2 separate regions of the Homo sapiens genome follow, and region 1 is linked to region 2. Evidence: fine-mapped expression QTL. A gene starts in region 2. The other region holds a variant in brackets. All regions are shown on one strand. Distances are between the middles of the regions. Region 1 holds the start of ATP1A2 (ATPase Na+/K+ transporting subunit alpha 2). Region 2 holds the start of PEA15 (proliferation and apoptosis adaptor protein 15).

The links. PIP is the estimated chance that this variant, and not a neighbour inherited with it, causes the effect.
Region 1: its variant is fine-mapped to the expression of PEA15 in tibial nerve (GTEx, PIP above 0.99).

The regions. Positions count from the first base shown.
Region 1 is chr1:160,109,331-160,121,484 of GRCh38, forward strand. It overlaps ATP1A2 (ATPase Na+/K+ transporting subunit alpha 2), which reads left to right and starts at 6,429. Exons shown (of 23, transcript NM_000702.4): 1 at 6,429-6,543; 2 at 11,576-11,680; 3 at 11,862-11,921. The coding sequence starts at 6,532. RefSeq lists enhancers at 419-940, 2,689-3,308, 3,309-3,928, 4,549-5,167, 5,920-6,703. The variant TGTTTCAACAAAC/T (reference allele first, on the strand shown) is at 6,340.
Region 2 is chr1:160,197,761-160,209,914 of GRCh38, forward strand. It overlaps PEA15 (proliferation and apoptosis adaptor protein 15), which reads left to right and starts at 7,624. Exons shown (of 4, transcript NM_003768.5): 1 at 7,624-7,762. CASQ1 (calsequestrin 1) reads left to right here. Exons shown (of 11, transcript NM_001231.5): 8 at 917-971; 9 at 1,193-1,293; 10 at 2,091-2,165; 11 at 3,485-4,126. The coding sequence ends at 3,616. PEA15-AS1 (PEA15 antisense RNA 1) reads right to left here and starts at 11,109. Exons shown (of 5, transcript NR_123725.1): 1 at 11,084-11,109; 2 at 10,497-10,627; 3 at 7,578-8,616; 4 at 7,311-7,374; 5 at 4,439-4,756. RefSeq lists enhancers at 6,830-6,929, 7,280-7,329 and a silencer at 7,480-7,739.

The DNA.
Region 1 (12,154 bases), 88 kb before region 2:
TAAACAGAGCTGTATCCTGGGCCAAGTGGAGGGGGCCTGGTAAGGGAAGAGGGAGGTGGGAAGAAGGAGGCTGGGGGCCAAGCCAGCTGCCTCTTGATAGGGGGAGCGGGGAGGCGGGGTGCTCTGGGCCAGTGGTTGGTTCAGATCTCTGGCCAAAGCAAACCTGCCTCAGGGGGCTGGGGGACCTCTCCCTCCCTGCCCGGATGGAATCAAAGGCTAACAGGAACCCTGGAGGGTCCAGCTGTGACCCTTGCTCCTCACACTCAGCAGGGCCCATTAACCCCGTCCTCCCCATATCCTCAACACACTTTTCCCAGCCCAAAGAATCTTTGCAAACAGACTCCCCTGGTATTTGCTGATCAGATACCAGCCAAGAGATGTCAGGTTTTCCCAGTCTCACCACCAGCCCTGCCTTCCTCCCCCAAAGATACCCAGACCCTGTCCCACCTCTCACAGCGGTGCTCTGTAAGAACCCAGGGTAGCCTTTGCTCAAACCGGAGCCCTTCCTTTTTTCCATGCCAAGAGTTAAAGGGATTCGATTCATTTCTATGAGTCATAATAATAAACAAAATAGGAGCACCTGCCTCCATGCTCACAAACAAGACAGGACAACCTACCCTCTTGGATCTCCTTCTGAACCCAGGTCTCCAACTGATGGTTCTCACACAGGTACAACCTGCAGGTAACTCCTGCTGTTTACCTGAGCTGAGCTGTGCGCTGAGGCAGAAATAGCCTGGAATTTGGGGATCATCAGAACTGGAGAGGGACCTCAGAGATTTTCTTTTTTTTTTCTTTTTTTGAGACAGAGTCTCGCTCTGTCACCCAGGCTGGAGTGCAGTGGCGCAACCTCAGCTCACTGCAACCTGCACCTCCCAGGATCAAGCCATTCTCCTGCCTCAGCCTCCTGAGTAGCTGGGACTACAGGTGTCTGCCACCACGCCCAGCTAATTTTGTGTGCATGTGTATTTTTAGTAGAGATGGAGTTTCACGCATTAGCCAGGATGGTCTCAATCTCCTGACCTCGTGCCTCCCAAAGTGCTGGAATTACTCACAGATTTTCTCATCCCGTTCCTTGTCATTCAGATGAAGATGCCAAGGTCAGAGTAGAGAAGCCTCTTGTCCAACATCACACAGGTGGTTAGTGGCTTCAGCAGGACTAGCCTCAGCTGACTTGACTTTCAGGCAAGAGTCCATTGCATTGGACCACGGTGGGGACTGTGAGAGGACAGGAGGGAAAGCAGAGGCACAGAATAGCCCAGGCCTTCATGCTCCTGGGAAGGGTTGACATGGGTTCCCTGGGCTACACCATGGGTCCTTTCCTTTTTCTCCCTTGGGACTTCCACGTGAAGAAGGCACAGGCAGAACACAACATGGAGCTATCTGAATCCAGAGAGAAGTAAGAACGAAAGGAGGTGGGAATGCAGCACAGGCAGAGGCTGGGGAAAATGCTTCTGGGTGCTTTTACATCCTATTTTCTAAATTCTATACAGTGTGGTTTTAACAATAAAGAGGATAATAAAAATACTCTGGGGAGAGATTAAAATGACAGAACCAGCTGGGTGTGGTGGCGCATGCCAATGGATGCACAACTCTGGAGGCTGAGGCAGGATGACGGCTTGAGCCCAGGAGGTCGAGGCTGCAGTTGATCATGCCGCTGTACTCCAGCCTGGGTGACAGAGTGAGAATCTGTCCTTTTTTTTTAAGGGAGAGAGAAGAAGAATTGTTTTTTTTTGTCTGTTTATTGTTTTTTGTTTGTTGTTGTTGTTGTTGTTGTTGTTTTTGAGACAGGGTCTCACTTCGATTGCCCAGGCTGGAGTACAGTGGTGCAATCTTGGCTCACTGCAGCCTCTCAACCTCCCTGGGCTCAGGTGATTCTCCCACTTCAGCCTTATGAGTAGCTAAGACTACAGGTGCATGCCACCACGCTCAGCTAATTTTTTCGTATTTTTATTAGAGACAGGTTTCACCATGTTGCCCAGGCTGGTCTTGAACTCATGGACTCAGGTGATCTACCCACCTCAGCCTCCCAAAGTGCTGGGAAAACAGGCATGAGCCACCGCGCCCAGCCAGCAGAGATTTTTAGAATCTACTTTGAGTAGACTGAAAAGAAAGACCATGTTGAAGGAATGGTTTAACAGATAAAGAAAAAAAATAAGATAAAAATAAAAGAAAGACCAAAAAGAAAACGGAGGAGCAGATGTTAAAGGAGAGATGGGGAGAAAATTCAACACCATCCTTGTAGTCCAGTGAGGAAACTGACACAGCAGCAGGACTTGGACAGCCACTCTGGGGCTCTGAGCCCAACCTTTTTATTTATTTATTTATTTATTTATTTATTTATTTATTTATTTATTTTTGAGACGGAGTCTCGCTCTGTCGCCAGGCTGGAGTGCACTGGCACGATCTCGGCTCACTACAACCTCCGACTCCCTGGTTCAAGCGATTCTTCTGCCTCAGCCCCCCGAGTAGCTGGGATTACAGGCATGTGCCACCACTCCCAGCTAATTTTTATATTTTTAGTAGAGACGGGGTTTCACCATGTTGGCCAGGATGGTCTCAAACTCCTGACTTCATGATCCGCCCACCTCGGCCTCCTAAAGTGCTGGGATTACAGGCATAAGCCACCCCACCTGGCTGATCCCAACCTTTTAACAGGTCACTATAACCTGAGGGAGTGGGAGGACAGAGGGCTGGAGAGGCAGGGAGAGTGAGAAGTCATCTTTCTTGGACACTTGTCATGGCCAGTCCAGGCCTTCCCGGCTCCCCTCATCTCATCCCCCAAGGTGGGCTCCCTTTGGAAGCAGAAAAACTCCACCCACACTCCCAGAAGACCTCAGAAGCCTGATAGCAGTGACAAGACCACAGGCCCTAAAGAAAAAAAGAAAGGAGAGTTAGAGGGAATGGAAGAAGGAGAAGAAGGAGAGATGCCCAGAGGGGGGTTGGCAGCCGAGAGGAGGACCAGAGGAGCAGGGCTGGAGAGCTGGGCCCAAATCAGGACTGGGGGAGAGAAGTGGGGTGCCGGGGCGGGAGGAGGGACGATGGGGGTGATAGAGCCTCCCAGCTCTTCCTTCCCTCCCACTCTCCCTCCTCCTCTCTCTCTTTCATGATCTTGAAACAACCTTCAAGTCTGGGCTGGAGGCCCCAGGAGGCCAGTCACTTAGGAAACAAAACTGTTTCTTGGAGACCTTGAAAGCCCATCTGCAGCTGAGCAGCGTCCCCACCCCCTCCCTGTGCACACACACATTCTCCCATGGACTCTCACGTACACCCACACCCGGCTTCACATGAGCTCCCCAATGGCCCACATGCACGCACACACGGACTCCACACTTGATCTTAGCCAAAAGGCCGAGAAGCGATGCGCACTCACGGACTCACACGCACCTCTGTACTCATGCTTGCATACAGACAACCGATTCATAGCAGATTGGCCACACATCCGAATGAGTGTTGTCCTCTCCCCTGAGGAGCTCCTCCTTTGGAATGTGGTTTGGTACCACCACTCCGTCTCATACCTCACACAGGACCCAACGCTCAGGTCCTCCCAGTCATTAACTAGCACACATCTGTACACAGGCACATGCACACTCCTGTCTCTCTCCAACTGTCTTGGTCTCTCTCTCTCTCTCTCTCTCTCTCTGTCACACACACACACACACACACACACACACACACACACACACACTTCTTACCAACCAAATATTTGATTCAGGACCACTCCATCCCCACTTTGCCCTTGGTGGATCCCCCTCCTGATCTGTGACTTTCTCAGCCCACTCCCCAGCCCAGGCATCTTGGCCTTCCATCCTCCTGCTTTCAAGTCTTTCTTTCTCTCTCCTTTGCTCCTCTTACTCCAAGGGCCTTGATCCAAACTGGTACTGCTGACTGTGTCTGAAGAAACAGTAGCCCAACCCAGGCACTCCAGATCAAACGATCAGGTGTCTACACCTGTTAATATCCTGGAGGCTGAGGTTCATGGTGGACAAGAAGGAGGTAGACCACTCCAGAGCCTCAGCTCTCACTGGGCAAGGAGGGTGGTCAGTGATGCACGGTGGAAGTATAGGCCCTGGGTGTCCTGCCCACTCTTTGATTTCTCTGAGCCCTAAATATGTGAGCAGCAGCGCCCCTCGGGCTGTGCTCTCGCCCAAATGCAGGGCATGGCAGGGAGCCCCAGCAGGCTGTAGGGGCAGAGGAAGGGCACATCCTTTCCGGTATTGAGTTTGGCCACAGGGACCAGAGCCAGGGCCTTTGGAAGGACTGGGCAGTACTGGGAGGTGCCAGCAGGGGTGAGGGGTGGGATGAAAACTGTTAGAGTGCTTGAGGTTTGCACACCTTCAGATTCGGGGACTGACGTTTTCTCTCCTATCTCAGGTTGTGTTCTGGAGAGGGCTGGGCAGAAGATTACCCAGGAATTCCAACCCAGGAACCTACGGAACAGGCGCTTCCTAAACCCCAATTTATCATGTTGTTCCCACAGCCCCCAGGCAAGCCTGCCCCAATGTTGATCTCCCTAGCTGCCTCGGGGCCACTCTGGAGTGACTTTGCTTTAGACAGTCTCTCCTGGTGTCTAACCACAGGCTTTCCCGCTACTCCCCTCTCACTCTCTCCTTAACACACAGGGGCTGAACTGGTATCTGTTCCCTTCATTGTTTCCTCCCTCTGCCCATTCTCTCCCAAGACCAAATCTGAGCTCGGAGAGGGGGGCCATGAGAAGGCCCTGTTGGCCCCATCCTACCCACCCTTTCTGACTGTAACCCAGAGAGGGAAGGAGCGTGGAAGTGAGATGTGACCTACCAGGTCCCTGTAATGGAAAATCTCAACTGCAGGCCCGGAGGGGGCCAGTTATTTAGGGAATTCAGATGTTAGCCTTGTGCCCTGAGAGTGGATTTGCTAGAGGAGAGGCTGATAATCCCTCTGCAGGGAGTTCCCTCTGGGGCCAGAGATGGACCCAGCCCAGCCAGCAGGCACCTTAGGCCTCTGGCCAAAGCCCCCCTTCCCTCCCTCCCTTCCTCTCTGCTTTCTTTGCACTCAGGACACTTAGACCTGCCCCACTCCGCTGGCTTCCCCTCACTCCATCTCTGTGCCCAGAGAAACAGGGGTACTCCAGGGGAATCCTGTCCTCTGACTGTTCCCAGTAGAAGGCGGGAGCAGAATTTTTTCTTTTCTCTCTGCCCCTTCTGGGTTCCCCTTCCTCTCTGTGCCCCTCATCCTTTGGATTACTCATCAAATGAGCAGCAACAACACCCCTAGACCAGCTGGTCCTGTCCTGGGTCATCTCGTTGTCCCCAGTTTCTAGCTGGTATAAGGTTAAAGATACCCTTTCCAGCCCCAGGCAAAGCCTTAGGCATTTCTGGGATTGCTCCTGACTCTGATGGGCATCCTCACTCCTCAGACATTTCCAATCTCCCCCACTTCACTGCAGAGAGGCCTGTTCTCCAGCCTCAGTCCTGCATGCTGCAGCTTTGCTTCCCCTTCCCCACTGGAAGAAGGAAACAGTCGCTCTCCTTTCCCGTTCACATGTCTGATATTTGCTATGATATTGACCTTCACACACATCTTAGAGGTTCTGTATTTTCCTCTCTTTTGACTTCTCCCTATCACTACTCTACTCAGGCATAGATTCAGTCTAGAGCTCTTCAACAGCAATGAAACGGTAAACGAGGGGTAAACAAAACCCAGAGATGTCATCAGGTGCCTGCTAGGAGTCCCACCCGTTCCCCTCTAGCCCTGGCCTGCCCCTCCCTACCAGAGTCTTGATTCTCCTTCAAAACTTTGGAGAGGTTACATCTGGCAGGGTTTGGGGACACCCTCTTGCCTCCATCTCCAAACTTCCCGCTGCCTCCCGAGCCACCTTTGACTCCTCCTGGGCCCCCCTTCCAGGTGCCTCAAGTGCAGAGGTCAGCCTTCGGTTCAAATTCTATTTCTGGGCTTCAGTGTCCCTGCAACCTCTATAATAGAAGGAACAGAGTGGTCTATGTTTCTTTCTTTCTCTGGGAGATTGGATGTAGACTCGGGAGACCTGAGTTCTGGCTCTGTCTTATCAATTCAAATTGTTTAATCTCTCTGAGCCTCAGTTTACCCACTTGGAAAAGAAGAGTTAGGCCACATGGTCTCTGTCATCCTGGGATTCTGAGTCAACTGCTCCCCTTCAGCCAGATCCAAGGGGGCATATCCCCCCAACCTGGGACCCAGGCCCCCTTCCCTTGCAGCCTCTCTCAGTTGTGAGTGCCACAGGCCAGAGGGGGTTGAGAGGAGCCAAGGGGGGGCATGCCGTGGGACAAACGGGCTGTCTAGGGCCAGTGGCTAAAGGGGCGGGAGGGGAGGAGTCCTCAGGGATCC[TGTTTCAACAAAC/T]GTTTCTTTCGGAGGAGGGGAAGGCGGGGGAGAGGGGGAGAAGGACCTATTTAAAGCTACCCTGTTGCTTTGGCTTTCTCTGTCTGCCAGGGTCTCCGACTGTCCCAGACGGGCTGGTGTGGGCTTGGGATCCTCCTGGTGACCTCTCCCGCTAAGGTCCCTCAGCCACTCTGCCCCAAGATGGGCCGTGGGGTGAGTATCCCTAAAGAGCAGGGGTCGCAGTCTAGAGGGTGAGGGAGGCTGCTGAGGAAGGATGAAGTGGGAATGGGATGTGGAAGGAGCGGGAGAGAGGAGCTGAGTGGGATACTTGGAACTTGAAACTAACAGTCTCCAAACTACCAATGTGTGTACAGATCCCACGGCGGTCACATACCCTAGTGCTCTCCTCTCCTCTGCACGCCCCAGCCCCCTGCCCACAGTTAGACCCACAGCCCACCACACATGCCCCCTCCATCTCTCCCTCCACCCCACTCCCACATCTCTAGTCCTTCCCTGCAGCAGTCCCTCCTCTCACTGCATCTCCCGGCCTCCCAGCTGAAAGGATGTTTGGCACTGTGAGTCCTCCTGTCTTTGCCACCTCCTGAAAATATCCATTCCTCTGGGAGTCCTAGCCTGAGAGGCTGGGGGTCCATTTTGAGGTTAGAGAGGGGCAGTAGAGCATCCGGCTCCCAGAGTCACCAAGTAGTTCCGGACACCAGCTCCAGGGGCCCTGAGTGCCAAGGACAGCTGGGCGGGGTGTGGGGAGGAAGAATGATGACCCAGCCCCCACCCCAGCACCCCTCCGGATGTCCCGAGCAGCATTGTCCGTGGGTTCCAAGCCATGGGCTTTGAGGACTTTCCCAGAGGCTGGTGACAGGTGACCCCCCCCCCAGTCCACCCGTCCATGGCATTCTGCAGCAATGGCTACACCAAGAGGAAGATTAACAACAATGGGGCGGGCAGGGAGAGGGCTTTGAATTCTTGGAAATGAAATTCCCATATGGAGAAGAGTGGCCCAATCCTTTTACATGCTGTGCCTGGCTGCTTTCCTTTTGTGGAATACTGGCAAAAGAGGACACAGAGGGAAAGGGCATGCTGCGGAACAGGAGGGTATGAGGAAGACTGTGCCTAGGGGGAGCCGTGGGTGTTTCTGGGCCCAGGAGGAGTCAGGCAAGGACATGTTATTGCACCTAGTTGAGCAGCTGGGAAATCCTGAGCCTGGACACCAGGGTTCCTGAGCTAGGGTTGGAGCCATAAATAGAATTGGAGTGCATGCATGTATCTGTGTGTCTGTGTCTGTGTGTGTGTGAGTGTGTGTCCTTGACCACGTGTTCTCCATAGGCGGGGAGTCCTGCAGTTACTCATGGATGAGTACCTGTGTTTGTGTCTCAGCAGGCAAATTTGTAAATGTACAAGCCTTCAAGCCTGCACAAGCATAAATGTCACTGTGTGGGGGTGCTTGAGAGTCTGTGAGCCTGCCCTTAGGAGCTGTGAGGTATGGGCTTCACGGAGGAAGAGGTCATAGCTGCAGGAAGATATACTGTCTTGGGACCTTCAGCTGCATCTTGACATCTCTGGCTCCCCATGGAAAGGGCATCCCTAGCTGAGATGCAGGACCTCTGAGAAGAGGCAGGGGTTAAAGGATCAGATAAGCCCTCCATTTCCCCCATCCAAGTGAAGAGAGAAGGAGGGGAGGTAGCCCCCTACCCTGCTCCATCTTAGAGCAAGGTAGACCCAGCTCAGGAGGTCTTGCTTGGGAAGTGATGAGACCTTGACTTTTCCAGTCTGTCTTTTTCCCCTAGCACCCCCAAACTCCCCTTAATCACCATCCTAAGTTGCTGTGGGTGATGCAATAGCAAGATGAGGAGCAGATCTGGGCTGTTTAAACTAAGAGGCTGGGTGAGGTGGGGGTATTTAGGGCCTGGAGCTTAGAGTTCAACCTACCAACGACCCCTGAAGAGGGAAGGCATCTGACACCCACAACCTGTTCTAGGGATGATTTTTCCTCCAATCCCTTCTCCCCTGCATCTCCACTGCAGAGGCAGGCTTCACTGTCCCCCCATTACCCAGTGGCTGTGAAGGGCAGCGTGGGAGTTGGGGGAAGGGACGACACTGGTGGGAGGGAGCCCAGCCTGCTCCAGCTACCACGGAGAGGCTGAGATGGGGGGAGCGTTGGCGGATTCCCAGCTGCCCCCACTCTGTCCCAGCCTCTGGCTTTCTCAAAAAGGACTCTCTGTTCTCCTTCAGCATTCAAGACCCAGAGAGGGGGACTTGTGGTTGGGGGAGGGAGGAGTGGAGGGAGGTTGGGGGGGTCCTTGCTTCCTCTCTTTCTTTCTTGCCTGGGCAGCCGCTGGCCCCAAATCTCTGCAGGCTCCTGGCTGCAGAGCCTGAGATCTTTGCCAGGACAGGAGGAGGGGGAAGGGGCAGTGTGTCTCAAGCTCTAAGCCTGCTGGAGAGCAGGGCGGGAGCTTGGGAAAAGGAGGCACTGCGTGGAGCTGCTTAGCTCAGCCACAATCCAGCATGCCAAAGTGCATGGACCAGCAAGTTTTTAAAAAGCATGCATTTTATTCCAATTTTTATGAAATTTATTTCACATCTGAATATACAGAAATTCCTCTGCACCCTGCTCTTCTGCCCACAGACCCAGCCCTGCTCCTCTGTGTATGCCTGGGCCCCCTTCTGTCCCTGAAGTTCCTGAGGGTCACACTGAAGCTCAGCCAGCCTGATCTCTTGCCTCTGTTCCCTTGATTGCATTTCTTCCTTTTCTCAGCTCTGTCCCACCACAGACAGTTAGTGAATGTAAAGCATTTCAATCCACTCAATTAAATGAATCCTCTTAGGTCACCTGAGAAAGGCAGAGGCAGAACCACTCACAAGCCTTTCCCCACCCCTTCCATTGGGCTGCTCGGTCTCCCCAAGAAGATCTGCCTTTAGGAGGCCAAAATTATACCAGATTCATAGATGCTTCAGGTGGAGACAAACCCACGATTTTACTGGTCACCTTTTCTGAGAAGAGCACTTCTGAGCAACACAGCCTCCAAAAGCTCATATCTTTTTAAATCATTGGTATCTTGGGAACAACAGTGTTGACTTCTCCTTGCATCCCCCACCCCTACCCTTGCTTCTGATTGTACTGGTCAGACTTCTACCTCTCAAGATGCTGAATTGGCGACCTCTTATGAACAAGGCAGCTGCCATACTTCTGGGATTGCTCCTGACTCTGATAAGTAAAAAAGGCATTACCCTGGAGCACAAAAGTCTTAGGGCAGTGAAGCTATTCCATATGATACCACAATGGCGGATACACGTCAGTATACATTTGCCCAAACCCATAGAATGTACACCAAGAGTGAACTCAAACTTAAACTATGGGCTTTGGACGATAAAGATGTATCAATGCAGGTTCATGATTGCAGCAAATGTAACACTCTGATGCAGGGTGTTGATAGTGGGTGAGGCTGTGCATGTGTGGGGGCAGGAGATATATGAGAACTTTCTCTACTTCCCACTCAATTTTGCTGTGAACCAGAAAATTGCTCCAAAAAAAGTATATTTTTTAAAATGCAAACAAAACCCCCAAAACTGCATTATCCTGCAAAAAAAAAAAAAAAAAAAAAAAAAAAGCAAACACCTTGGCTGTGGACCCTACCCAGGTATCCACTCTTTATGGGAAACAAAAGTTAACATCATAGTGTGGGAAAACTAATTCCTGAAAGCCTAGTGCAGACTTTGCAGAATCCAGTGGAGAAATAGGCACCAGGTGGAAACTGAGCAGCCCCTCTATGACAAGGACTCTATTTCCTGAGGGAAGTGGGAGGAGAGAAGACTGGGGCAGAAGAGGAAGTAAGAAGGTACCTTTTTGGGAACTTTTCATGGCTACCCAGGCCTTCCTCAGCCTCTATCCTATTCTATCACCCCAAGAGGGCCTCCTCTTAGAAGGAAAGATTTCCCACCCTGTCCCCAAGAAGTTCCCTGTGAGACCCTGGAAGGCTGGTAGTGGTGAGCCCACAGGCCCTGGAGTGGAAGGGAAATCAGGAGCCTCATAAGACTACAATTAAAATGTCCATCTGCTCAGGCGCAGTGGCTCACACCTATAATCCCAGCATTCTGGGAGGCCAAGGTGGGAGGATCACTTGAGCCCAGGCAATATAGTGAGACCTTATATCTAAAAAAAAAAAAAAAAAAGAAAGAAAGAAAGAAAATTGTTTTAAATTAGCTGAGCGTGGTGGTGCATGCTTGTGGCCCCAGCTACTTGAGAGGCTGAGGTGGGAGTATTGCTTGAGCCCTAGAAGCGGAGGGTGCAGTGAGCTGAAATTGCACACTGCATTCCATCCTGGGTGACAGAGTGAGACCCTGTCTCAAGAAAAAAAAAAAGGCCATCTGATTCACCAGATGACCCAGGAATGTCTAGACTTAAAAACTATATAAAATGTAGTTTTAGATTTACTCTCAGATACAATTTCTTATGTTTTGGGACAAATGGGGCTCAGTTCCCATGTTACCCAATTGTGCTTTGGGGGTCCAGTCCTGTGAGTTGCCTCCCGTCTAGTAACGGGCAGGCCTGCCCAGCAGGATGGAGAGGGCTCCCAGCACACCCCATGTCTCCACTTCCTGGACATGCCCTGACTCTCCAGCTACTGCCTCCTCTCAGTCCATCAGGCCTGCTCTTTCCATCCCTACCATTCCACCACCAGACCTGGCTCTCCTCTGGACACGTTCCTGCCTAATCCCCTGGCTCCCCAAAGACTCTTGCTCCCCCAAGTTCCTGAGTATTTCTACCCCTCTCTAAGTAAAATTGCCATGGTGTTGGGCTAAGACATTCCTACAGAGTGATTCTACTCCCTCAACAACCCCCCACAAAACCCTGTCCACTCCCTTCCAGAATTTTCCCAAATAGTGTAGGATACAGGTTTTCAAAATTTTTGTTTTGTTTTGTATTTAGCAGCAGGGTCCTTTCAACAAACAAAATCTTAGCAGAAGCCCAAGCATTAAACCACTCAAGTGGTGCTTTTCAGTCCTGAGCCCCTCACCCTTCTCTGAAACTCACATGGGAGCCCCTGGTTCTGCCAATAGTCTACAAACTGAGGGCCTAGGGTCCCTCACCCTCCATCCCCCCTATCTCCCCCAAGGCAGCCGCTGCTTTTGAACACACACCCCCACTGCCTGGGCTCCCTGGCTGAGTGGTGGGAATGGAGGCCCCAGCCCCTCTCTTCCCTGACTCTCTGGCTCTCCCTTCCTCCCTCAGGCTGGCCGTGAGTACTCACCTGCCGCCACCACGGCAGAGAATGGGGGCGGCAAGAAGAAACAGAAGGAGAAGGAACTGGATGAGCTGAAGAAGGAGGTGGCAATGGTGAGGGAACTGCTGGGCCATGGAGGAGGGGCCCCATGCTGGGAGAGCTGTCCCTGCAGCCCATTGCACTCAGAGAAACTCCGTGTCCCCCATGCTGCTCAACTCACCCCTGTGCCCTGCAGTACCCTCATATGCATCTTAGATACCTCCTCCCCAAAGTAACTCACCCTCCCTTCCCCAGGATGACCACAAGCTGTCCTTGGATGAGCTGGGCCGCAAATACCAAGTGGACCTGTCCAAGGTGAGTGGAGGGGCTTCTAGGGAAGGAACAAAAGAGGCAAGAAAACCATGCAGCATCAAGGTGGCAGGAGCCTTAAAACTGTAATCCAGCCTTCTTTACAGATGAGGAAACTGAGGCCCAGAAACAAGGACTGGCCCAAGGACATGCAGCTAGTTGGTGGCACAGCCAGAACTAGAATTTGGATCCCCTGCATCCTAGCCCAAAGCTCTCTCCCTGTATACCCTAGAAGCCAG
Region 2 (12,154 bases):
GTAATCCCAGCACTTTGGGAGGCCAAGGTGGGTGGATCACGAGGTCAGGAGATCGAGACCATCCTGGCTAACACAGTGAAACCCCATCTCTACTGAAAATACAAAAAAAATAGCAGGGTGTGGTGGCGGGCGCCTGTAGTCCCAGCTACTTGGGAGGCTGAGGCAGGAGAATGGCTTGAACCCAGGAGGCGGAGCTTGCAGTGATCCGCCACTGCACACCAGCCTGGGGGACAGAGTGAGACTCCGTCTCAAAAAAAAAGAAAAAAGAAAAAACAGTGCACTAGCAGCAACTGAAAGATTTCTACACTGAAGAATGTGTGAGGAAATGGGAGACAGACATAATTGAAGATGACAAGGGAAGAGCCTCAAGCCTGGGGATAAAGGGATTATCAGAGGAAGTGTGGGGCCTTGGAGCTGAAAGGAGTGTCACTTGGAAAAAGGTCACCATCACAAGAATATATATGGCCAGGCGCAGTGGCTCACGCCTGTAATCCCAGCACTTTGGGAGGCTGAGGCAGGCAGATCATCTGAGGTCAGGAGTTTGAGACCAGCCCGATCAACAAGGTGAAACAATGTTGTACTAAAAATACAAAATTAGCCAGGTGTGGTGGCGCATGGCTGTAATCCCAGCTACTCAGGAGGCTGAGGCAGGAGAATCGCTTGAACCCGGGAGGCGGAGGTTGCAGTGAGCCGAGATCGCGCCATTGCACTCTACCCTGGGGGACAGAGTGAAACTCTGTCTCAAAAACAAAAAAAAACAAACCCCAAAAAACGAAAGAATATATCTGGTCCTGAAGCTGGATTTCCACAAAATTGAGGTTCAATGAACATCTAGGATCTGTTCTGGGCTCCTCAACTTCAGGGAGTATAGTAAGGTCTTCTCCAAAACCCTGTTCTCCTTCTTACCCCCTGACAGGAGGATGATATGGATGGAATCCACATTGTGGCCTTCGCAGAGGAAGCTGATCCTGGTGAGGGAGGAATACCGGGTTGGACTGGAGGGAAGGCAGGGGGAGGTGGGTGTGTTTATTGGAGCATGGGCCTCACTAGGAGGCTTTCCTGGGAGTTTGCAAACAGCCTAGGGCTAGACATGTGAAGCTTGGGGAGCAGGGAGGTAGCTCTGCACTCCTGTTTCACCTGGGTCCCTTTCCTCTCTACACACCTCATACCTTGTACTTGTGTTCCCTCCAAGATGGTTTCGAGTTCTTAGAGACTCTCAAGGCTGTGGCCCAAGATAACACTGAAAACCCAGATCTTAGCATCATCTGGATTGACCCTGATGACTTCCCCCTGGTAAGAGGCACAGCTCAGGCACTGCTATCTTAAGGTGGGGCCTTGGACTGTGACATCTTCTTAGTGAGGGCTTTGTTTCAGAGGTCCCATCCCCACCTCCTAGCTGGGGGGCCCTGGGAGGGTATGCGTGTTGCATGCTTAAGGGCACTGTTGGCATGGAGGGCATCCTGAGCAAGGGGAAACAGGACGGACATCACACACATTCCCAGAGCAGAGGCTGGATGGGTAGCTCAGGTGCTAGGGCTGACTCCTAAAGAAAACCAATGTTGTGAGGCACAATAGTCCTGCACATGGGTATACACACTCAATCATAGAATCATAGCACAGAGATTCCCTGTTTCAGGAGATGATTTTGTTCTCAGCTACATTCCCAACACCTAGCACTCGCTGTTGAATGAGTAACTGAAAGAACAAAGAGAAACGTGAGAAACATTGGCACTTACCAGGTATACTTGCCTTATTTTAGAAATGTAAGATCTGAGGGCCAGAGAGAAGTGACTTGACCTTGAACACAAGGATCTGATCCAGGATCAGAACAGGGTTTCCTATCCAGTTTTCCTCAGAAAAGAGGGGCCAGTGCACCCAGCTGACCCTCCCGATTCTCTCCCTTTAGGATTTCTCCTCTTTTGTTGTTTAGTTCTACCCTTGCCTTGATGCCCTCACAGGTGGACCTGTCCCCATCCACTGCCAGTTCGCACTGTCCCCTCTCCATCCCTGGGCTGACCCTCACACTCATCCTCCTGGATTCATGTGCTCCCTAGTATCTATTAAGTTGCTGTATTTTGATCTCTCTACAGCTGGTCCCATACTGGGAGAAGACGTTTGACATCGACTTGTCAGCCCCACAAATAGGAGTCGTCAATGTTACTGATGTGAGTTTCCTGTCCTCATCCCGGGTTGACCCCCGACTCTACTTCCTAGCATAGCTAGCTCTCCTCCTCTCTGCTAACTAGGAGTTGGGCCCTTCTCACAGGACGCAGACATGCCCAGTCTAGTGGCTGGATGGAGGGGGAGACTTAGGATCTGAATGTGGCCCTGTCCCACATGTTGGAATCAGTGGCTCATCCTTCAAGGCCCAGTTCAAATTCTTTCTCCTCTGTGAAGTCTTTCCAGATCTCCCATTTAAAATCATTCCCTCCCTGGCACTCCCAGGGCTCAATAGCCATTGAGAACATGACATTTAAATGGCTATTTATGTATTATGTGTGTCTCTTCCAGTAGATTTTTGAGCTTGTTCAGGGCAGAAGTCTTCTTATGCACACACAGTAGGTGCTTCAAAACTGCTAAGTTGAACTGAATGAGCCACAGTCTCTGCTTTCATAGAATTCTCAGACTAATTAGAGAGGCAAGTGTTCCATTAACTACAAGGCCAGATCTGATAAACTTTATAATAACGATACAAATAAGACACAGGATCACATTGATTTCTGCTTGACAGAATCAGAGAAAAGTTTAAGAAAAAGTGATATTCAAAATGGAGATTCTACAATGTATACGATTTCAACAAGTGATGATTCAGGGAAGTCATTTCCAAACTGAGGAAAAAGCAAGATCAAAAGTTAAAAACAGGAAAATGAATATCAGGTTCCCGGAAAAGGCAGGTGGATTTTTATGGTTGAGAGTCTAGAGATCACTGAGAATGGTACTAGAAAAGCAGGTTATGAAAAGCCCTGGGGCCAGGGTAGTGGCTCAGGCCTGTAATCCCAGCATTTTGGGAGGCCAAGGTGGGAGAATCACTTGAGGCCAGGTGTTCAAGGCTGCAGTGAGCCATGACTGCCCCTCTGCGCTTCAGCCCGGGCAATAGAGTGAGACCATGTCTCTTTTAGAAAAGAAAGAAAGAAAGAAATGTCCTGAATGCCGAAGAGTTGCTAACTTTATTCTTATAAGCCATGAAGAGCTACCAGTGGTTTTGCACCAAAGGCATAATAGGGAAGTTCAGTGTGGCAAGAGCACGGGAGACAGATTGAAGGGAGAAGGTCTATTTGCCAATCCAACTTTTCTTCCCACTCTCACCTGTCACTATTCTAACCCATAACCCATACCTTCACCTGGACAGTTTCCCTGGCCTTTGGCAGATGAAAGGAAGGGACTGAGAATGTAGGGAAGGATGTACAGAGTCCAGTGAGTGGGAAGACAGATCCTAAGACCCGGGTTGGACTTAGCTTCCGTCCCTGCCTGTGCCATCTCCTAGGCGGATAGCGTATGGATGGAAATGGACGATGAGGAGGACCTGCCTTCTGCTGAGGAGCTGGAGGACTGGCTGGAGGATGTCCTGGAGGGCGAGATCAACACAGAGGACGATGACGATGATGATGATGACTAGTTGCTATGGCAACCATCTTTCAGCCCCACTGGTCTTTTCATGCTCTCTCCTGCCTTCCCTTGTCCTTCCCTGAGTTCCTCCAGGGAGACTAGGTTATTCTCTGCCATAGAGCTAACTGGGGTCTATATGCTGGGTGCTGAGACACTGATCCCCCTCATTTGATGAGCAAATGAGCTACTTTTCCCTAGACACCAGGCCAGCTCTCTCTTATCTGACTTCTGTTTCTTATCCCATAACTTACTTGTATCTATTATGTGTCTCTTCCATCACTCTCCATACTCTTTCTTGTGATTCTCCTCTAGCCATATATATGGGCCCCATCTCTGTTCTGTTCCCTCCATCTATGCACAGCTTTCCCCCACTCTCTCTAATCCTGTATCTTTCTGACTGTCCTGTCCTTGGCCAGAAGGAAGGGAGAATACTGTGTTTGGGACTGTATCTCAGCAATCACTTGTTAATGTATTTGGGTCAAATGAGAGGCCTCAATAAAGACATCTGGGGCAGCATGAACAAGTGTATTTTGGTGAAGTCTCACCCCTATGGCAGGAGGAGGTGGCCACTGATGGGGAATTCAGATGTGGGTGCCTTGCTAGGGATGAGCTGGGGGACTCTTATAGTGGGGACTGGGGTTCCTCCAGGCAGCTTTCCCAGAGAAGCCTGGATTGTTAATCTGCTTCAAGTCAACAAGCCTTTTCTGAACACATGGTGTTTGTCCAGGGCCACTGTTAGGCTCTGGGAGAACAGAGAGTGCTAGGCCTGTCCCTGATCTTGAGCTGATTAGCCTCACGGAGAAGTCAAGACAAGCATACTAAACAATCGAAGAAGAATACAAAGCAATATGTAATTAAGTGATTATGTGCTGCTCGATAGCACCCTCTCTGCAGCTCTTATTTGAACATCAAGACAGAGCTCCAATTATACTTCCTTGGTGAAGCCTTCCCAGAGGTGGCCCCTCCAGTGATGACCTCTTCTGAGTTCCTGCTGCACTTCCATTCCAGTACTCAGCACAGTCTGTTATTGTTCTTCATTTACGTGTCTGTCTTCCCCACTCAACTGTGAGCCCCTTGAAGGCAGGAACCCAAGCTTTTTCTTTGTGTCCACAGGGTCTGACACTCAAAAGTTGTCCCTAGTAAATGTTTCCTAAAGGAAGAACAAAGGAAAGAACAGAATGAACTCAGAAGAGAGATCAGAGTGGGCTTGATGACTTCACAAAGGAAGTAAGCCTTTACTAGGCCTTAAATTGAAGAATGGGATTTGGTTGGAGACAAAGGAGCTGAGGAGGAGACATTTCAGTCAGTGGAAAACATCAAGTACTGGCAGGATATGTTTGTCATATTGGGGGCACAGAGACCAGAGAGACAAGAAGAAAAATCAAGTTGTGGCCATGAAGTTGGGTAAGCATAATGGGGCTGGGTTGTAGAGCTGTTTGAATTGAATCCTGCCAGCCGAGGAGGCAGGGCAAAATTTAATCTGGTAGCGATAAGCAGGATGGGGAGGGGAGATGATGGAGATGCCAGAGGTAAGGGGCCCAACCCATAATCAGTGACTGTTATAATAATTGGAGTGATGTTGGGAGAACATGGACCCAAGTGGTGGCCATGGGAATGGAGAGGAGATATTGTATACAATGGGGATCTCCCAGACCTGGGCCTGCTGGAGGTCTTGGCAAGAAGGACCCACAGTCTTTCCAGAATAGGCCCAGGCTGGGGTAAGCAAAAAGGAGTTTAGGGAGTTGGGGATGGGAGGGCCAAATAGCTAAATAAGCCCATAAATAATAAACATATACATATATAGTTTTGAGATGATGCCCATGAACAATAAACATTTTATATATATAATATATACAAATAGCTAAACAAGCCCATAAATAATAAACATTATATATATATTTTTGAGATGATGCCCATAAATAATAAACATTATATATATATACATATACATATATATGTGTGTGTATATATATATATTTTTTTCTTTTTTTTTTTTTTTTTTGAGATGGAGTCTCACTCTGTTGCCAGGTTGGAGTGCAGTGGTGAGATCTCGGTTCACTGCAACCTCCGACTCCCGGGTTCAAGAGATTCTCCTATCTCAGCCTCCCAGGTAACTGGGACTACAGGTGCCCACCACCACACTCAGCTAACTTTTTTGTAGTTTTAGTAGAGATGGGGTTTCACCATGTTGGTCAGGCTAGTCTTGAACTCCTGACCTCAGGTGATCCACCTGCCTCAGCCTCCCAAAGTGCTGGGATTACAGGCGTGAGCCACCACGCCAAGCCAACATTATATTTTTCATGGATCAGGTGTAAAGTTGTTGCTGAGAGACTTAGAGGATTTCTAAGTACGGAAAGATGAGACCTGAGATTAGATATATTTTCACTCTCCACAGACAAGTCCAGGAAGTGTTCCTAGAGAATGTGGCAGGGGTGTAGAAAGCAGAAACTATGTATTCATTCCAACTTGTAGCTATTTAATAAATGTTTAATAAGTAGTATGGGCACTAAGCTAGTCTTACAATAATATTGTGGAGCTTACTGTCTAGCATAGGTCAGTGGAAGGCCCCGGTCTAAATAATAGCTCCTATTTTTTAAGCACCCATCTGTGCCAGTCCCTAGAGACTTACTATTTCTGAATCTCAGAAGAACCCTCAGAAATAGACATTGGCACCCTGATCTGACCGGTGAGGACACTAAGGCTTTCAGGCATAACTTGCCCAAGGAATGGGTGGAACTAGCACGCAGCCCAAGGCCCCTGTGTCTTGTTGCCTCCAGACCTGAGCCTTTCACTTAGAAACTACATGAGTCTCAAAGATGGGTCAACGAAATAGTTTTTGTCCCTACAACACAGAGCAAACATGATATATACAAAGGCAAATGATTAGTGTGTGACAGGGAATGCTGGGGAGAGGAAACAGCAGAGAAATGCTATGAAACCCAGAGCAGCAGGAACTTGGGCCTCTTCTAGGAATGGTGTAGACCCAAGAAAGGAGGGGCTCGTTTGAGGTTTCTGGAGGAGTCTCTGCCAGGTAGGAACTGAGATGAGATGGGTGATCCTGGAAGTGGCACAAACACTGAGGGGAATCCCCCAACCTGGGCCTGCTGGAGTTCCTGGCAGGAAGGACCTACCCAGGGTCAGACTTCTTTCCAGGGCCAAACCCTGCCCAGAGCTGAGGCAAGACCCCTTAGGCTATAGAGATGGGGGTGAAAACAGATGCTTCTCCAATTCTTCCTTTCCTCTTTTCAGTCTGGCTGAGAATCTGGGGGAGGAAAGTCCCTGGGGTAGAGGGGAAGTGAGAGCTGCCACATTGGGCCTGGGCAGAGGGGCAGAGCTAGGAGATGGAGCTAAGTGTGGCTTTGCAAGTTGTCTATATTTGCATGCTGAGCTCACTGCTGCTCTTTTTCTCCCCAGAAAATAAAATTACATCATGGTAGGGGGAAGGCAGGAGTGGGGCATGTTTGGGAAAGGTGAGAGGCACGCAAGAGGGCCTGAAGGCATCATCCTGGAAAGAGAAGATCCAGGGCTCCTCAAGTCCCCATGTGGCCCCAACCCCTCACTCCCAATGTGGATAAGTCTGATCAGTCATTTTCCACTGCGCCCCTGACCCTTAAGGCAAGGCAAGAAGTTTTTACAAATATTAAAGCCAGCAGCTAAGAGAATCCAGCCCCCAAAGGCTTTCCAACCCCCTAAACCAAACCTACTCTGTGCCTCCCAGGGGTCCTAGGCACCGTGGTCATCCAAAGGTCAAAAGGGGAGGAGGGTGCCCTACTGGGTAAGAATTAAATATGAGAATTGTTTCGCAGTTCAGGGGGAAGAGACCGTCTCCGCTCCAGCCCTCCGCCCAATTCTGTCCCCCATCCTAGGAGTCTTCCAGAACCCCAGCCCCTCGGTCCCCCGCCCCCTCCTGCCTCTCCATCCCTCCCCCTCCTCCCGCCATTCCCCGCCCCCCGCCCCTCCCCGGCTCTGACATCACCGGCCAGCCGGGTGGAGTGAGCGGCGCTGGGCTCGGGCTCCGGCTCCGCGGGCGGAAGAGGCGGCGGCGGCGGCAGAAGCGGCGGCGGCGGCGGCGGGAGCCGAGGAGGAGGTTCCGGACGCTGCTTAGGAACCGGGGACTCAGGAGTGCCCGCGCCCTGAGCGCTCAGCTCCAGAGGCGGTGAGAGGGGCGGAGAGGAGACATGTCGCGGGGAAGGGGCAGATTTCGGGGTCTAGGCTTGGAGGGGCAACGATCTGGGACACCGGGGGCCAGACGGGGAGTGTGGGGACCCCGGACGAGTCCACTTTGTGTCAGGCCTCACGGGGTCCGTCCCTCGGTCGGTGCGTCCCGAGCGCCGAGCGTGTGCTGGAGGCGGCGTGGCTCCGGCCAGCCCGTTCCACGCTGAACGGCAGTTTGGGAGTCGGACCGGGGCCTGTGGATTAGGATGCAGCCTGCTTCCCGCCCAGCCGGCTCGGCCAGGCCAGCGCCCGCCCCTCCCTCCCCGCTCAGGCTTCGGACTCGCCTCCGCTGGCGGTCTCCCGGCCCAGCCCTGTCTCGGTTCCGCGGGCGGCTGGTACCATGTGCCCTCACCCCCAGCTCACTGCACCTGGGGAAGAGGTGGGCTTGGCGGAAAGCTTGTCCAGAGGGAAGGAGGAGCTGGGGGTGTAGAGAAGTGATGTATATCTAACGTAAAAACCCTTATTAATTTCATATAATCCGTGTCAAAACTGACAGGGAAACACGCACACCTATAAGGCACGCCAGCACACACAGTGACACACACCCATGTGACTTATACACATAGTCTAGCACACTCCAAATCACAAACGTCCCTGGACTACGCATCCGGCCGCCCACCACACCCCCACTCTGTGGGGTGGGGCATCCCATGAGGAGTCTTCTGAACTGCGGGCTCCAAGTCATCAGTCCGACAGGACAGCTGAGTGGACAGAAAGGGCCACTGTCCCCAAATCCATCCTGATTTTCTGGCAGCTTTTCCCAGCCCCATGGTTTCAGATTGTTCCTCTTTAAAACTGTGGGGAAAGATGGGAGAAAATCTTGGTCTCATTCCTCTAACACAAGGAGACAGGATTTTGCGGACTAATGAGGGTAGGGGCTTCTGGTGGCTTCTCTTCCTGGGTCCAGTTAGGGCTTAGCGTGCTGGGAGTGGCTAGTTTCTGGGTAAGAGTGGCCAAGGGATGGAGGAGGAGGGGGTGGAAGAAACGGAGAGGAAAAAGAATGGGTATGAGTCAGCCAAGAATGGAACCCAAGTCAGAGAGAGAATGAGAGGAATGTGTGTGAGAAGCAGACAGACATCTCCAGAGAGGTCTAGAGATAGTCAGGGAACCAGGGAGAGGGAGGAAGTGAGAGAAAGAGATGGTCAGAGAAGTGCAAACAGTGTTTGAGAGTGCACTAAACAAATTAGGGAGGATGAAGGTTGGGGGAGACCACTGGGAGTTAGGGAAAGTGGTACGTGTGTCTGGGCCCCAGGCTGTCAGAGCGATTAGCTTTAATTGCTCTTCCCTTTGTGGTTAAATACTCCATTGGGGAAATTGCCAGTGATGCCCTAGGCTGCAGGCTTCCCTGGTTGCCTACTTCCTCAATTCCGTGCCCATCATGTGTGGATGTATTATCATGCATGAAGAGGGTCACAGAATCACAGAGCGCCTCACTCTCTCACACAGATCCTCACGCACAATGTCATGATGGATATCTTCACCAGCTGGTAGGCAGCCAACCACTGAATCTCCAAGCCACTCCGACCAAACTTACTCTGTCTTTTGTAGCAGGGATGCTCACCCCTTCCTAATTGCAGCTCCGAATATTCAGATGGGGACAGTGAAGCACAGATCTCAGGAGTCCTAAGTATTCATGGCTACCACTAAGTTGGATAGGTGAGTAGGAAATGCTAGAAGGGGTGAAAGCCTATAGAAAGGAGGAAAAGAGAGACTGAAAGATGAAGTAGAAAGGAAATGCATGACAAAGAGTGAGAGAGATGGAGAGAGACAGAAATAGAAGCAGGGAGTGCCACACCAGAAGAGTGGAAACAGAGATGGGCTGGGGAGAGTCCTAGGCCCCATTCCCCTCCTCGCCATCAGCCGGCCCTCCTCTGCTCTGCCTGATCCAGTGCCAGCTATCTCCTGATGCCCCATCTTGGGTCTGGCTCTTTCTAGACCAAGGGCTGAAGGCTAATCCTTGTCCCCATGCCCAAAGGTAATCCATTTTGCTTCTTGGACTGAAGTGAACATTTTAGGGCCCAGATGTCCTGCCTCTCGTCACTTCCAGGCTGACCCTGGAGCCTCAGAACCCTCAATTTCCTTGTTACAGGAGTAAAGACAACCCCCTCCTCCCCCACAAAGCTGGATAAAAAGCTTAAAGAAGAAATTAATTGAGAATGATATTAAAGGAAATAAACTACAGGACTGCTTGAATTTGGGGCCCAGTTATAATTTAAAATAGGAAAGCTGGACCCCTACTCTCTCCCTTCCAACCCCTCTGCCTCTCCGTGATTACTTCCAACTTCAGGCAGAAGACTGACAGACTTGAGTGCCTGGGAGTCCCCTCCTGCCCAATACAGGGACCTCTAGGTCCTTGCAGCTGTCTGGGATGGCCCCTCCCCTCAGGCTTAGGCAGCTGCAACAGATGTGGAAGAGGGACGGGCAGCAACTCTTAATCTTCAGGCTTCCTTCTCGAATTTACAGAGGATTTGGAACCAAACGTTAGAAGGGATAATCTACCACGACTTAATGTCAAAATGCACAGAAATTCTTTTGGTGCTGCCACCTCCTCCACAGGTGGTTATCCCAATTGCCAGGCTTCTCAAAGCACTCCCAGGGCCTGGCTCTTCTTACCCCAGTGCCCATGGAGCTCCCACCTGTCCCACCCTAAAAGGTCAGTATATAATGGTCCTTACCTCCTGCCCCTCTTCCCCAGCATCCTCAGTTGGTTTGACCTTTGTCAGGGCTGTGCCTGGGGCCAGCTTGGAAGGAGAGGGAGGCAGGAAGGAAGGAAGGTGTGAGGAAGCGGTGAGCCTAGCACAGAAAGCTGGGAGGGAAGAGGACTGACTTCCTGGCAGCCGGGGCTCCGGTTCCTGATTCCTGCCCTGGTATCCTGTCCCAAGAATGGCCTCCGCCCAGACTGCCTGGTGATCCCTGAGCAGCTCTCTGCACTGCTCCAGAAATCAGGAGGATTTTTCAGAGCCCAGAGAGCAGATTTCTCCACGAGCCCTAAGGAAATCTGAATCTCTGGTGAGGAAAGTGACATGGAGGATGAAGGAAACAAGCTCTGCCAAGCCCCACCATGGCCAGGCCAGACCAGCCCAGGTACAACTGTTGATCAGTGAGAATTGAGAGCAGTTCCCCTAAACAACACTCCCTTTGCTTCTTCTGCCATACTAAGGCCTAGGCAAATGGATCTCTCCAAGAAGGGAGGCAACTGGGCTGCCTTTCCTTGTACCGTCAGGGGGCCTTATTCCTATCCTTTCTGTCCCTTCTTACTCACCATTCCCTACACTCCTCCCATCTAGTGGTGTCATCCTAACGACTGGGGGTGGGGGGCACCCAGAACTGAGGTTGCTATAGTAACAGATGAGATGAGGCTACAGCCTTCTATAGTTGTGGACTGTATGCTCTCCTCCCCCTCGCCCCCCATGCCTCATTTGCAGCCTTAGTCTCTTTCTGTCTCCCAACTCCAGCTCTCTTTCTCCATTCTGTAGGCTCCCCTCACCCCTCTGGATGTGAGCCTGTGGTTATATGCCTTCTTACACATGCTCTTGGCTGGTTTAGACACATACAAACACACACATGACAGATACTCACAGCCAGTGCACCCACAGCCATATATCCAGTGCTGGCACATACACCTCCATTACCAGAACATCCAAACACACCCACAGATACCCAGCCACTGCCTCCTCCAGAGCTGTGCCCACAACCCGGGGATTAGCATCCATAAGATCCGAGCACACACACATTTCTCCTCTGCCACTTTAACATTCCTACCCCCATCTCTCTTAGGGGCCTCCTTGTATCTTTCACTCTCTTAGAAAGCTCCTACCCACTGCCCCCAAGTCTTTGTGGGTGAGTGTGTTACACACATTAATCTCTTCCCGCCTACCTCCTCTGTAGATCTGTTTTAGATTCAAAGCCCTAAATCTGAACTCCTCCCGACACACACACACACACACACACACAGACACACACACAGATGCACTCTTTCCTCCCGCAGGATCTGTAATATTTACAAACTCTCCTTCCATATGAAAGCAGGGAAGTATAACCCCCAATCCTGCCCCCTTTTCCAGCTGAGGGCTTGGCCCCAGAGTTTCCTCCACTGGGGCAGGGTCTTCTTGTCTCCTGCTGCGCTTTCCCTTCCAGTTGTACTCATGCCCCCCTACTCATTCTTATCTCCATCTCTAGTCCCCTCCCCATCATCCCCCTCACCCGTACCCCCCTCCTTCTGTCCTTGGATTATCAGTGAAGTGAGGGGGGTTGGGCTCCAGAGCTTGCTGCTGTGACCTAGATTTCAAGGCAGAGACAGTTCCTGGTGCTGACAGTCAGAGAGCATTGTTCC